Linked DNA regions of Homo sapiens. The protein of the gene in region 1 interacts with the protein of each later gene in a biochemical or structural test. Each region holds a gene or a part of one and is shown on either strand. Other genes may lie near its edges.

Region 1 (8,072 bases):
CAGGAATTAGTATTCCACAGGAAGAAGAGGATAACTACCTTCATATCAGTATTGCCTACACTATCTACATTTCTTGTCCCCAGAGTGTCTGTGATTATATGTTCCCTGGAACCATGTTGGTCAGCCAGAAATAGCAATTCAAAGCAAAGGCCTTACCATTCACAAGTACAAGTTTAGTTAAATGCAGGCTGCTAAAAACATCAACATATTGTTAGGCTACAATATGATATATATAGTATCCACACCACAGAAAATGATATATTCTCCCCATACTCTGCACTGTTCAAACCAACCTAGATGATTATATTACTTCTGGGCCACATTTTAACAGAGACATTGCCAATCTGGCATGCATTCAGAATAGGTTGAGCAGGCTGAGCTAAAGCATCAAGAAGCCATGTCATATTAAAGAGGGCGAAAGGGGATAAAAATAATTTGCTTGAAAAAGATTGTAAGGCAGATACCAAGATGTGTCTCCAGCTCCTGAGCATCCATTCTGAGTAAAAACAAAAAAGTAAAGAAATGATTACTTTTTCTGTATTTTCAACCCCATAACATAAGCAAGAAAAGATCATATGATATCATATAAAATCTGTTGGTTACTGTCTTCTAATGTAATACAAATTATGCCCTGAATAGATAATAAAAATGAAATCTTGCCAAAGCCTAAGAAGGTATGCTTGAGTATCATATTTAATATTTAAAAGGCTGTCATTCAGAAGCAGAATGACATTAAATATTAAATATGAAATGCATAGCAAAACCATGATCAGTGACTGGTAAAGGCAGGTTTAAATGCAACCTGAGAATTTCCTGCAACTTCAAATTGTCTATCCATAGAATAGGTGACCTCATTAAAACAGGTGACTTTTCCTTTATTGAAAGTACTCACAGAGACATGAAGCATGCAGATTTGTCTTCCTGAGTCATGGATGGACATCTTTTTCAGAAATCAAGGATAGAGTCAGATAGAAGCACATTATTTTATGTGGGATTCAATCCAAACATTTTATTTTATTAAGTCAAGAAAGCAGTCTACTATAGGGTAACTATAGTTAACGATAATAGATTATAATTTCAAATAGCTGGAAGGAGAATATTGAATGTTCCAAATACAACTAAATGATAAATGTTTGATATGGTATTTAATGTATAGCTAATTACCCTGATCTGATTACTGTGCATTATATGTGTCAAAACATCACTATGCACCCCATAATTATGTACAATTATTATATTAATTTAAAAAATAAAGTAAAAATTAAAGCAATCTAACTTAAACTATTTTGTACAACTGTTGGGAGTTCTATTGAAGTTTTACTTTTTAAAAATAAATTCATTCAAATATTTGAGGAGATTATTATGTCAAACTTAGCTGTGCCACTTTTATTAGTGTCATCAGATATCAAATTTTAAGACCAAAGTATTCTTGGCTGAAAGGGGAGCTTGAATCAGTTCCTGACAGACATTGGATTAACTATTTTGTGTAAATATTTTCCAATTTGTTACACAATTACATATTAATTATTCATATATTGTGCAGTTATATATTACCCTGAGTAAGGTTTAAGTCCATAAGTTGTATAAGCATTCTGGGATGCCTAAGGTGTGAGCCTGGATGTTTTGGAACTTCAGTCAAATGGTTGAATTTTCTTGATGAGCTAAAGCCATACATAGAAGCAGAAATATGTTCTGTGTTCCTAACATCCTCTTTTGGTTATTTTTAGCTGCAGTATTGAAGTATGAGAACAATGTTATGAATATCAGGCAATTCAACTGTTCTCCTCATCCATACTGGCTTCCAAATTTCATGGATGTTTTTACTTGGTCCCTTCCATTTGTTGGGGAAAAAGGTATGTTGTGGAATCCTGAGATGTTCTTCTTAAAATAGTTTAGGAAGGAAGGAAAGGAGATTAAACACTCAGAAAGAGAAGAACTTTGGCCCAGCCAATAAAATTCACAAGTTGTACAATGAAAGATGTGATTTGGAAGTGGCAGTGTGTCACTCTGTATCCTATTAACAGGACACAATTGGTGAATGAGGGGGAAGCAAAAAAAAAAACAAAACACAGGAATATTTAGGAAATTTTTACAATCTTATTAGAATAATATAACGCTTTAAAAAATAATGGAAATACAGGTTTACCTGGTTTCAAGTAATGTCTACCCTTTTTCCTTACCCATTTGTACTATAATCCCAAAGGACTATTTAATTTTACAAATTATCTGCCAAATTAAAAGATTAGGATAGCCATGCTCTCCTTACATTTCTGATGTTAATAAATTATTGTACGATAGTGCTTAATGGCTACAATATTTTGAAGAACAACATGTACAACAGCAAAGTAGTTCATCAATAATGTAGGCATTAGCGCATTATAAGGTACAGAACAGGAGACAAATTTACATTTTAGAAAGTTATTTGTTAACTTTCTTCCTACCTTCCTTCTTTCCTCCTTTGTTTTGCTTTCATATGTTGACTTAAACCCCAACAAAAATTTTGGGGAAATGTCTGCACCAATTGTTTTTCATTCAGGAGGCCTAACAGTGATACACGGATTGATTCTCATGTATCTTCTCATACTTTCCATGAGAAGGTGAATGGGCATTGTAAGAAAAATAAATGTTCCTATAAGTATCAGAGTAATGATGTTCTATGAGGAGTATCAGAGAAAAGCTAAATATTTTTCTGAAACCCTAATGGTTGTTTTCCCTTTAAATGCCCTAAAATGATTAAACCAGTCAAGTTATGAGTTGTTGGCAAAGAAGCCTTCCCTTTGAATATCAAAATAATCAAAAGTAAATTTTTAATAATCTCTGATAAATATTCCCAATACTACTCCATATTGCAACTTTCTTGCACTGATCAAATTGGAGTAGTGTCATCTGTTGGCTTCGCTGGAAACAGAAGCAGTGTGGATGCTGACAACTATGGGGCACCTTTTGAACATCCTTTATTTGGGTTGTTTCTATTAATTATTAAAATTTGGGACATTTATTAGAAATTAACATATTAATCTATTGGTACACAAAATCCAGTTTTGATAATTAAACTGAAACTCTGGATCAGTGTTGGCTCTATTGAAGTTTGACTCTCTATCATTCATCTTCAATTCTAGAAGGACATTTTTTTAAATAGCATATTACTTTAAAAAGTAGCTCTCAAAGAAGCAGTAGACAGGCTTCTTTTCACATGCATGGTAGAATCCAATCTAATTTCAAAAAATATTAAATGTAAATAGCATGGTTTATAGTATAAAAATAATGCAGTACTAATTTCCTCTGTACAACACTTTTATGTAATCCTATTGTAATCTATTAAGTAAATTTCTGATTAAACTGCAACTGTTTAATTTTTTAAGCATTTTTGAAAATCAAATTTAATGATATTTCTGTCAATACATTTTTAAAATTAGTATTCTGAAAAATACTTCAAATATATTAGTTTATCAATCAACAGTTTGTATTAAACACAAAACCACATGCCTATAATGGCGTGAAGTTCTCTAGGTGATTAAAAATATAAGAAAAATCATCATTCTTAGTCCCTACTGAACAGAAGTTTGTAATCTGATCTAGATTAAGCCTTATCATTGTGTGACTAATAAAAATTCAAAAAAACTATTTTCTCTTTCATTGATTTGTAGTATATTCACATCCACATATTTGATTTGTCATTGTCTATTGACCTAGAGCTAGTAAATGTTACCATTAGATATCATAAGCATCAGCTAATAGTTTCATAAAGTCTGCATAGAATCACAAAGGCTGTCTTTTATGATCTGGATGTTTACTGAAACTGCTTCTATATACAAACTAAATAAGAAATGTTATTGCTAAGTTTGCTCATTAACAATGCCAGAGTAATAGTTAAGGTTATAACAGAAAACCCTGACTTTTCTTTCTTTGCTTTCTCTCTTTAGTGACTGAGATGCTGGTAAATGTCCTCAACATCTGCTCAGATGATGAACTAGGGTCAGAAGAAGATGGATTTGATGGTAAGAGGCTTGAGCCTTTGTGCTAATGCTATTTGCCAGATAATTACTTAGAGTCTCATTGCTAAATCTAAGAATAAATTTCTAAGATTTGGATTATGTTTAAAACGTAACATTATTGAGAATAAAAGATATGATTTCATTTTCTGTTTACTTTTTAAAAGTATAAGAAACAAATATCATGAGAATTTTCTCATTACTTTAAAAACATTGTTAAAGTAGTAAACTGTTTTAATAAGCTTTCAGTAGCTCACATTGCTAAGTGACCTTTTTTGGCTTTTTGATACAAATTTAATCCTTTATTTTCTAACAGATGTTACCAATTACTGGACAATTATTTTTTCTTTTACCAGGCAATTTAAAAATGTCCTCTAATGGGGTTGCTCACATCAATTATTCAAGTTTTGATGTTTATGATGAAAAAGGCATTTACATATTGATATATTGGTATTTATTTCAATCCCAATATTTCTTCTTTCTGTAGTAATAGGTAATGAATAAACTGTGAGGAGTTTTTTATGTTTTTTAAGATATTACTTGGTGTTTAATTACCCTCAAAGGGTATGCTTTTTCTGCAAGAGGCACAGATCCATGAAGTTAAAGATGAAGGGGAAAATTACCCTGAGTCTTACAAAAGCACCTCAAAATGAATGGAAACTGACAAAAATGTACTTAGAGAAGAAAAGCATAAGAGCAAACTTTACTGCATTTAAGAAGTACAGTTGAGGCCGGGTGCAGTGGTTCCTAGCACTTTGATAGGCTGAGGCAGATCACTTGAGACCAGGATTTTGAGACCAGCCTGGGAAACCTAGGGAGAATTCATCTCTACAAAAAATTAGCCATGTGTGGTGGTGCATGATTGTGGTCCTAGCTACTCAGAAGGCTAAAGTGGGAGGAAATCTTGAGCCCAGGAGGTTGAGACTGCAGTGAGCCATGGTCATACCACAGTACTCCAGCCTGGGTGACAGAGCAAGATCCCATCTCAAAAATAAAAGCAGTACAGTCAGCCCTCCGTATCTGAGGGTTCTGCATCCATGGATTCAAACAACCTCAGATTGAAAATAATTCAAGAAAAAGTTGCATCTATACTGAACACATACAGACTTTTTTTCCTTGTCATTTTTCCGTAAATAATACAGTTTAACAACTATCTACATAGCATTGACATTGTGTTCAGTATTGTTAAGTAGTCTGGAGATTAAAGTATACTCAGAGGTCCTAGATTCAGGACACCCAGGGCTACAAGATGCATTAAAAACCTATTCTTTGAAGAAGTTGCAAACTGGTTGGAGAGACTGATGCATAAACTAATAATATCAATAAAATGACACAAATTATAAATAAAGGGTGAAGAGGGCAAGGGAAACTAGATATTATGGTGAGTTTAAATGGATAAAATGTATACCTTTAAAAACTGCAGTTCAGTAAAATGAAAAGAGAATGTGGTCCTTTCTAAAAGTTGGTTTCCAAATGACATGATTTAATGTTTACCTGGGCTTGATACAGGTCATGGGTATAAATGCAAAATACCTAATGCTGCAGGCAAAAGTATAATAAACCTGTTCATACACTCATGTAAATAGAGTCTATATACTCAGGTAAATTTAATGTATGAGATTTATTTTTAACATCTCATAGTTTTTCTCCTCTATAACTTCTCTTGTCTTTATTACTTGTCTTCATATACTATTTTTGAGTCATATACCACATCGCAAGGAGATGTGCAACATAGGGAAGGAAAGGGGAAAATGGATATATTTAAAAAACAACTTTACTGGGCTAAAATTAAGAATATATAAGAACTTAAATATATTGGCATATTTTGAAATATGCAAGAGATCAATGGACATTTTGTGCTTTATCTAAATTCTAGATGTTTCATATGTTATAGCCACAGTTTGCTACTGTTATCTTTTAAATGATAGCACTGTTTTCAGAATGGCAGAAATTTTTTCCTAAAAGAATACTAACCAAATGGAACCTAAATCATAAACATCAACAAACGTTTTTCAGTATGTACCTTTCACTATATTCCTTTTATTCTTTAAAAGAAAGATTAACATTAATACAATAATAATCCCCTATTAATAAATGTTTGTTTTTTGCAAAGTCCACTGGCCAGTATTTATGATATAGAGAACAAAAATGTAACATACTGTAGAGAATAAGAATGTGTAGACCTACATATGTTTGTAATTTTTATGTTAATCCATTCACTCAGCAAATATATATTCAGTATCTACTAAGTACCAGGTACCATAGCCAAAATGACTGCACATTTCACTGGTACATGTTATTCCTGCACAGTTACCAACATTACCAAGACTAACCCTGTGCTTACTTCACTTCTAGTAAGTTCCCTTTACTCACCATCTCAATTACTTACATGAAAGGATTTGTTTTGTCAGTTACTTTATTTTAAAATAATTAGTTCTAATCAATGTGCTGTGCTCACCACCAATTGCTTTTTAAACTCTGTTTTAATTCCAATTGTAGGAGTGCATGTTTGTCTTAAGGTCCTTGGAAGAATTTTTTTCTTTCTAAGCAGACCCCTGAATTCCCCCTTTACCACTCTTTAAGTTTTAAGTCAGTCCTGCAGAGAAATTTTGTCCTACCAGGTGCAGGGAGGAAGATGGTCAGGAATGCCTAACCTGCTCTTACCAGCTAGAAAAGATGAGCTTTATCTCTCACTTTTGTCAACTTCCTTCAGTGGTCCATTCCTGTCAAGTTAAACATCATTAAGTTATTTATCTTTCTGAACAGTTTCTTCTGCTTTAATTTATTTCTGCTTAGCTATATTAACAATAAGATTTGTGTTTTCAAAATTTTAAGCAAAATTTACACACAGGCTAATTAAAGTATTCAATGCATATTAAAAGTCCTATGTGTCTATAACTTATCAGATTGGGAGCTAGCAGAAAGAGATAAGATTATTGCTATATAATTTTTAGGGATAGACAATTTAATTTCCTTGGTTTCCTGTCTCATGGACCTCACTTAACCAGTAGTATGTGGGTGTTTTTTCTACCTTTTTTCTCCATCTTATTTAAAATTTGTTGGTGTATTTCCCTTAGTCAAACTAAAGAGAAACAATCATCTAATCTTATGTTTTATTTCTTTTGTATATGTACATATGAGAGGAGGAGGAAGAAAGAGATGAGGAGAGGTGAAAAGAAAAGATCCTTCTGCCTGATTGGGCTTTGCCAGCATATGATAGCAGTGCAGGCCTTGGTTCCATGAGCAGCATCAGATTCAAATTTCATAGAAAAAGAGCCCAGAGGAATTGAAAAAGAGAAATTAAATTCAACAAGGAGAGGCATTGTATACATTATGCATTCACGATAGGTTATGATTGAGAAGAAGCTGGTGCTTTGGGAAAAACATATTAGGTTCTACATTTACCCTTTTTGAATAGTTTTCTCCTTTCTAAACAGGGTGATAATAGGAGAATGCTGAATGCCTCTCCATTGAATTTGGAAACTGCCGGGCCAGCATTAGTGTGGTATTGTCTGCCCACACTTTTCTAGATGCAAGTTTAAGATCATGTTCAGTGTGAACATTGAGGACTTTAGAGATCGGAGTCCGAAATGTGTCAAAGTTAATGTTAATAGATGCTGTCCTCATTTTGTAACTGTGACTTCTAAATGTGACCTTTTAGTTCATATCTCATAAATTTGCCATTTAAGAAGAAATACAGAAATGAAAGTTTTAAGTTTTAATTAAAAGTATATCTTGCTGGGTGCAGTGGCTCATGCCTATAATCCCAGCACTTTGGGAGGCCAAGGCCGGCAGATCACTTGAGGTCAGGAGTTGGAGACTAGCCTGGCCAACATGGCAAAACCTTGTCTCTACTAAAGATACAAAAAAAATAGGTGGGCATGGTGGTGCACATCCGTATTCCTAGCTACTTGGAAGGCTGAGGCACAAGAATCGCTTGAACCCGGGAGACAGAGGTTGCAGTGAGCCGTGATTGCACCAGTGCACTCCAACCTGGGTGACACAGTGAGACTGATTCAAAAAAAAAAAAAAGTATATTCTACTTAAGATATTATATATTTCAGTATAAGCAATCAGGAG
Region 2 (8,072 bases), on another chromosome or scaffold:
GCCCATGTCTGAGTGCACGCTGGTTCTAAATTCCTTGGCCATACACAGTGCAACCATGGCAAGTTGTAACTCCATGCTCTGAATGCCAAAGTGTAGGAACCCTGTCACATCCACAGCCTCTGTTCTACGGCTGTCCCCATGGCAGGGGCTAGGCAGGGTGAGGGCTCCAGTGACACAGCATACTTCCAGGTGAAGGTGCACAAGAGTGCACAGGAGGGTCTCCCGGCAGAGCCCGGAGCAGGTGCTCAGCGAGGGGGTGGGAGTCGCATGTGGTTGCTGGGCTTGCAGGCTGCCCTCACACGGCCCTGGATGCCGCTTGGCCACTGGCACATGGAGCAGTTTACTGTCGGGGGAGGTAACAGAGAAGCGGCCGCACCTCCAGATGCCTGCCTGGCTGCCACTTCCAAACTGGGCCTGACTTGATCCTGGGCACTGAAGAGGCCCCAACAGTCTACGGAATCGTTTTGGAAGCTCTGCACGTCCTGGCAAGCCAGATGAGTTGCACGAGAAAGGCCCTGGTGGCCAGAGCGTTCAGCAAATCTGTGTGTGGCGCTGCTCACCTGGGGCTCCCTGCTGCTGGCAAATCCCAGAAGGTCCGTGGGGATGGGAGCAGGAGCCACTCCAAGGTGGGGTGTGGGGATGGCATCGCCCGCTTGGCTCTGTTGAGGTCTGTGTGTTTTCCGATTTGGTCTTTTTGGTTATTCTTTTTGGTGAGCGGAGGGAGGGTATTACCTTTTACCATATCAGTAAACTGTAACTAATATGCATCTTGTCTCTAAGAATATACAGAAAGGGACAGAATCATTGCAGACAGTGTCATGCAGGGTTGCCTTGCATTACAGACGCACGTAGGAGGCTCTGAGGGCTGGCAGTGAGGATGGCCCGGTGTTCTCCAGACTAGATTTGGTGCCTCCGTCCCTGGCAGGATCCTTTGTGACCACTGGGATCCCAGTCTGTGGGGCTCCCAGGATGGGGCCATGGGGGCTTGTGCCCTCCTCCTTCCCAGAGCAGAACACTTTGAAATCGAGAAGTTCCTCAAGGTAAATGTACCTGCGTGAAGCCAGAGGACTTCGTTTCACGTGCAGAGAAGCTGCAGAAGGCCCAGGAAGATGCCAGGGATGAGTGATCTTCTGAGAAGGTGCCCAGCAGAGGGGCCACAGCACAGCCACTGACAGACCCAGCCCAGAGGGCTGCCACCTGCTTCCTTAAAGGGCCACAAGGCTGTCCCTCAGGACAGCGAGGGTGATGGCCACAGGAGGTGAGGGGCGACTGTGACCTTCCTGAGCACTGCCATGAGCAGGGGCTCTGCCGAGCCTCTCAGTCATCTCATTCCTGAACAAGAAAAACCACTCGCACCCCGCCTGCTCCCTTACACCGTTTCCTAAAGATGCTTTACTGCCTGAAGTGTCAGGTGCCTCTTAAAGGGCACCCCAGGAGAGAGGGGCAGGGAAAGGACCTTGAGTCCTCCCTGAGGCTCCTCCATGCTAACCGGGTGTTTTCTGTGTGCTGTGGGGTTGGTATTTCAAATCTGAAAACAAGATTTGAAAACACGGTCTGCTTCTATGTGCAGAGCCCTCAGAGTGTGGCTCAGAGTCGAGGGGTCCTGTGGTCACAGGGCAGGCGGGGAGCGTCAGTGTGCCTGGCGGGCTTGCGGCATAAAAATAACCCGCGCAGCTTATCGACAAGTTATTATTACCCCGTGTGGCCGGGGCCTTCTGGCCCCATGTGCTTCTCTGTGCTTTCCTGTTAGCTGCCCTTAGCCCAGTGGAAGCCAAGCTGTCGGGGTATCGATCAAGCCGGCTCTCAGAAAGGTTTTCCTCCCCAAAGCGGTTTCAGCTTTTCGCCTGCAGCTATTTTTAGAGGCTTGGGCTCCGCAGATGGGGCCTCTCTCCAATGATCCTGTGTGGCGGGGCTGGGGAGGAGCCCAGGCCAGGACCCCACAGGGAAGCTGTCTGGGTGGGGGACAGGCTTCTCCTTCCGCCAGTGGGTAACACCAGGCTTTGCTCTCAGTGCCCAGCTGGGATGAGCCCTGGAGGCTGCTCCGGCTGGGATGTTTTCTAGATATTTTTGGCCTATTTTCTGGGTAACAAGGAGTAAATTCTGAAAATGGAGGTCTCACATCCCACCGTCAGCAAACCAGGCCTCTGAGTTAAGCCCTGATCCCTTTGAAAATGCAAATTCCCGCTGGGTCACTACCACCCGTGTGTGTCTCGGGGGCTCCCTTGACCAGGCAGAGCTGGATGCAAACTCTCAAATGGAAGAAAAGGCTGAGAACGTGGTGCCGGCCCAGCAAAGTCAAACACCCCAGAGCTCACTGGCCCAGGGCCAGCCACATCCACTCATTCCCAGGGTGACTCACAAGATCCTTCCCACCCAGGACCATGGCTCTCTCGACAGCCCTGACAGTGACGCCAGGGTAAGGATTCACTCCTGCAACCACAGGGGCAGGACACGTGGGAGGAATCCGCGAGGACCTACCTCAAAGTGGATGGCCCCGTTCCCGTCCGCATCAAAGGCGTTGAAGAGGAAGTGTGCATAGGTGGTGGCATCTGGGGAGGGCAAGGAAGAGGCTGGGGTGTGTCGGGGCTGCCTGGCGGCTCATCTCCCACCCCAGGCAACCCCAGCTGAGGGTGCTAACTGCGTCCTGGCTTGGAGTCCCTGTTTCCCACGGGACAGGGGCAGCACCAAGCCTCCAGGATGCAAGGGGCAGCAGGAGGGTCCCCTCCCTCCACACTGGGACACAGCAGGGCTGCCCTGCCTCAGACTCACCTCCCTGAGGGAAGAACTGCGCGTAAATGAGTTTGAAGGTGTCTTCGTCCACCAGGCCCGTGGGACACTCCTGCAGCAGGAAGGCACCCCCTCAGCCCTCGGCCACCCCCAGCTCCAAGCCCGACTCTGCATGGTGCCTGGCTGGCCTCTCTCCACCCCCTTGGGGGCTGCCTGCTGCCTGTGGCACTGCTGGGGCCCCCTGGCCTGGGTTGTGGAAAGCCTGGGTAGAGGTGGGGTGAGAGGGAGGAGGGGTGAATAGGAAGGGGGTGACTGCTCCCCCATACCCTCCTCCTCTGTACCAGCAGCAAAGACACGGAGGGAGGAGCATGGCGGCCTCAGCGATGCCCATTCCGGAGCCTGCCCCCGCCACACAGCTTTCCCACAACACATAAGCCCCTTAAAGGCCCCTGGGATATTTACTGTGGCATGGAGAAGTTTCCAGGTCTCCCTGAGCCAGGGTCTCCAAGGCCTCTCCCGGGGGAATGGGGAACACTCACATTCTTAAAGCCCCTGTAGAGAGACTGCAGCTCCTTCTTGGTGAACTTGGTCTGGGCCTGCAGCTGGTCCAGCCCCTCTGGCTGGTGGCGCACCGTGGACAGCTCCAGCTCACTGTCGCTGCTATCTGGAGTGGGACACAGACCAGAGAGTGTAAGGCCTGTAGCCCTGCTCCTCCATCTTGCTCCAGTGTGGCCAGGGCATGGGCCAAAATAGCAGGTGGAGGAACTCTCTTTGCATGACTACCATGGACAGCCACACAGGCTGTGCACTGCACAGAGGGGGTGTGACTGAGTGGCCCACACAAGAGCTGTGCCTCTGCTTTCCTGCCCCCCACAGGGCGGGCCTCCCCATCGCAGCCCCTGCAGTGTGCCCCCCTGTCAGCCGCACAGTGGGACAAGGTGGGAGCTGCTCTTGTCCTAAAGAGGCACTGAACAAGGGGATATAGGAGGGGGAAAGACAGCAAGACAGGCATGAGGGACACTTGAACTTCAGTATCCAATTCCTAGACCACTTCCTCCATGTGGCCCTCCCTGACTTTCCCCAGGAATGGAGAGGGTGCCTCCCTTGGCCCTCAAGGCCTAAGGCGATGCTGTTCAGCTACAGTTGGCAGAGGGGTGTTATTCACATCTGGTTAGGAGGCTAAACCTCCAGGGCTGTGGGGGCAGGGATCAGACCTGTCCTTTAAAAACAATACACAAACTTGGCAGGGTGCGGTGACTCACACCTGTAATCCCAGCACTTTGGGAGGCTGAGGCAGATCACGAGGTCAGGAGATCGAGACCATCCTGGCTAACACGGTGAAACCCCGTCTCTAATAAAAATACAAAAAATTAGCCAGGCATGGTGGCGGGCGCCTGTAGTCCCAGCTACTCGGGAGGCTGAGGCAGGAGAATGGTGTGAACCGGGGAGGCGGAGCTTGCAGTGAGCCGCGATCGCGCCACTGAACTCCAGCCTGGGTGACAGAGCAAGACTGCATCTCAAAAAAAAAAAAAAAAAAAAAAAAAACCACAAACTTGTTAACTAACCATGGCTACATTTGAGGGGGAGGTGCAATTTCAGGTGATTTTTACTTTTTTATTTATGATTTTAAAAAACATTTTCCTAATTTCTTTTGGTGTGACATGCATCACTTTTACAATGCAAAATAAAGCTAGGGCTGAAACAGCACTGAGTGCCCACACCTTGCTGAGCAGCATCCTCGCATAATTACAGAGCGCCACCTTCCCACAGACCCAGGACTCATGGGCCCCGCTGCACCGTCGCCCTGTCTCCCCTGGGCCACACAGAATGGTGGTGATCCATAATCACCCTCATGGCTGGTACTCTGGTGCTGGCTGCTGCCTCTCCCACTGCACAGTGAGCTCTTCAGGGGCAGCTGTCCTGCACAGCTCATCCTGTGCCCGTGGTGCCTGGCATGGTGCTGGGCACTGGTCCTGTGCTGAGCTTGCTCCATACCCAGGCCTCTCCCGAGAGCGTGGTGGGAAAGACAGCCTGCACTGCCCACTCACACTAACCACAAGAGCACCCTGAAAGCTGCTCAGCAATTGGGCTGTTTCTTTGGTCCACACATGCTCCCCATCTCCAAGATAACTATTTCATACCATCCTTCCCCTTAAGTTTCCAGTATCTCCTCTCCCATCCTTACCCTCAGGTTGCTTCCCACTTCACTGAGAAGACACAAGCCATGGAGGAAAACTTCCCCAAGCCCTCACCCCACACCTACCCACCTGCCTGCACCTGGCCCAGACGTCTGCACGCCTGCCTGCTCCATGGCTGAACTGTGCCTGCTCCCAGCAAAGGCAAACCTGCCACTTGTGCAGTGGGTCCCGATCCCTCTCACCTACTCAGGCAAGCGGTGCCAGCCAAGTCTCCCACTCTTTCCTCATCACCTTTTCCCCTCTTCTGGATCATTCCCATCACCATATAGACATACTGTAGTATCTCGAATCCTTAGTCATATTAAGTATAGGCAAACCCTGTAAACCAGCATCCCACGCCAGGCAAGCATCCCACATAGACTCTTCCCCTGCCCAGGGGCCTGCACAAGGATGCTCACAGCAACAGCATTTTTGGCAGGAGAGTTGGAGGCAACTCAGGGGTTTATGGCAGGCAGGATGGGTAGGCAAAATATGGAGGCTGCACACTGGGGAGAACTGTGCCGTGGAGCAGATGTACACACAGCAGCGTGGATGGATGGATGGATGGATGGATGGTAAGAATCCTTTGATTAAGAGGCAGACTTTTCAGACTGGAAAAGCAAGATCCAATTATATCCTGTTTACAAGAGGGATACTCCTAATACAAAGATATATTAAGGCTGGGTGCTGTGGCTCACTCCTGTAACCCCAACACTTTGGGAGGCTGAGGTGGGTGGATCACCTGAGGTCAGGCGCTCAAGACCAGCCTGGCCAACATGGTGAAACCCCATCTCTACTAAAAATACAAAAATGAGCCGGGTGCAGTGGCGGGCACCTGTAATCCCAGCTACTCAGGAGGCTGAGGCAGGAGAATCGCTTCAATCCAGGAGGCGAAGGTTGCAGTGAGCCAAGATCGCGCCATTACACTCCAGCCTGGGTGACAGAGTGAGACTCCATCTCAAAAAAAAAAAAAAAAGATTTAAAATAAAAGAATGGAAAAACATTAAGAAAGCTGGATGTTTTATAATGATACAAGGATTAATTCATCAAGAAGGCAGAATAATCTAAAACAGACATCACCTAGTAACAGAGCTTTAAAATACCTAAAACAAAAAATTCAGAACTAAAGAGAGAAACAAAAAAGTCACAATCATAATTGGAAGATTTTAGCACCCCTTTCCAGTAAATGGTATGACAAGTGACGAAATAAAAGGTTTGAAAAACACCATCAACCAATTTGACCTAATTAATATTTATAGAACACTGTATAATTGTAGATACACATTCTTTTCAAGAGCATATCCTGAGGTTACCAATATATATCAGATGCTGGAACACAGACTCTTACCACAATGGTACTAAGTTAAAATTCAGGACAAGATATTTAGAAAATCTCAAGTATTTGGAAATAAACAATACATTTCTAATTAGCTCATAGGTCAGAGAATAAACTGCAAGGTGATCACATTTTGAGATATTTTGAATTGAATGATTAAAAAAACAGAGCATATCAAAATTTGCTGGATGCAGGTAAAGCTGGGCTGACAGGGAAATTTATTGCTTTCAATTCCTTTATTAGAAAAGAAGATAGGTGTAAAAGCAATGACATAAGCTTCTAGATCTAAGAGTCAGAATCTAAAAAATGCAGAGCAAATTAAATTCAAAGTAAATAGAAGAAAGAACATAATAAAAACAAGAGTAGAAATCAATGACAGGCTGGGTGCAGTGGCTCACGCCTATAATCCCAGCACTTTGGGAGGCCGAGGCAGGTGGATCACTTGAGGTCAGGAGTTCAAGACCAGCCTGGCCAACATGGCGAAACCCTGTCTCTACTAAAAATACAAAAAAAAAAAAGTTAGCCAGGTGTGGTGGTGCACACCTGTAATCCTAGCTACTCAGGAGGCTGGGGCATGAGAATCGCTTGAGCCCAGGAGGTTGGAGATTGCAGTGAGCAGAGATCACACCACTGCACTCCAGCCTGTTGACAGAGCAAAACTTCGTCTCAAAAAAAAAGAAAAAAAAATCAATGACAAATATAAGCATAGCCACAAACCTTATAATAAAGTCATTAAGAAACTCAAGTCACAGGCTGGAAAAACATATCTCCAGTATATGTATCTGACAAAGGACTCATTTCCAGAATACATAATTAACTTCTACAAATCAGCATAAGACTAATAACTCGATTTTGTAAACAGGCAAAAGACAAGGACGTGTCACAAAAAAAGATATACAACTGGCCAATAAGCACAGGAAAAGGTACTTGAAAGGACATGTGAGAATTCATGCAGTGATGGGAAAACTGGAGTACTGGCTCAGCCAGAGTGGAGATACCTCCCTAAGCATCTCAGGTGTTGGCTGAAACCCCAGAAAAGCTATGCTTTAGGACTGTGAACCACATCCTTGAGTAAGCGCATGCTCTAGACCCAATGACAAAGTCAAAACAAACCTACTCTGACAAAGCCTAAAATAAAGTCTGTGAAGATCACATGAGTTGGCCAATAATTTAACTACATGCCAAACCAAAATTTGTTAGCATTTATATTAAAACAATATAATCCATTGCCTACACTATCCCTTTCACAATGTCCAACATACAATAAAAAATAAAAAGACATGAGAAGAAGCAAGAAAATGTGACCATAATAAAGAGATGAAGGATAAGCAGAATTATTAGACTTTTGTTAGAATTATTAGAAAAGAACTTTAAAACAACTATTATCAACACTTTGAAAGAAATAAAGAAAAGAAAGCATAATAGATGAGAATCTTAATAGAAAAATTAAAAACTATAATAAAAGAACAAAATGGAACTTCTAAGCTTGAACAAAACAATACCTAAAATTAAAAATTCACTGGATGGACTGAGTGCAGTGGTTCACGCCTGTAATCCCAGCACCAGAGGCTGAGGCAGGTGGATTGATTGAGCCCAGGAGTTCGAGACCAGCCTGGGCAACATAGCAAGACCCTGTCTCTACAAAAAAATTGCCCAGGCATGGTTGTGTGCACCTGTAGTCCCAGCTGCTTGGGAGGCTAAGGTGGGAGGAGCACTTGAGCCTGGGAGATTGACGCTGCAGTGAGCCATGGTCATACCACTGCACTTCAGCCTGGGCAGCAGGGCAAGACCCCAGCTCAAAAAAAAATAAATTGAAAAAATTGAAAAAAAAA

Evidence for each region.
Region 2: of the proteins of PPP3CA (region 1) and KCNIP3, one has a biochemical effect on the other in vitro, tested with the Homo sapiens proteins (one study listed by BioGRID).

Annotation. Positions count from the first base shown.
Region 1 is NC_000004.12:101,057,013-101,065,084, reverse strand, and holds part of PPP3CA (protein phosphatase 3 catalytic subunit alpha), read left to right. Parts: intron 1-1,727; coding exon 1,728-1,853; intron 1,854-3,923; coding exon 3,924-3,998; intron 3,999-8,072. UniProt on the Homo sapiens protein: Calcium-dependent, calmodulin-stimulated protein phosphatase which plays an essential role in the transduction of intracellular Ca(2+)-mediated signals. Many of the substrates contain a PxIxIT motif and/or a LxVP motif.
Region 2 is NC_000002.12:95,369,615-95,377,686, reverse strand, and holds part of KCNIP3 (calsenilin), read right to left. Parts: intron 3,392-8,072; coding exon 3,267-3,391; intron 2,840-3,266; coding exon 2,770-2,839; intron 2,550-2,769; coding exon 2,479-2,549; intron 1-2,478. UniProt on the Homo sapiens protein: Calcium-dependent transcriptional repressor that binds to the DRE element of genes including PDYN and FOS. Affinity for DNA is reduced upon binding to calcium and enhanced by binding to magnesium. Seems to be involved in nociception.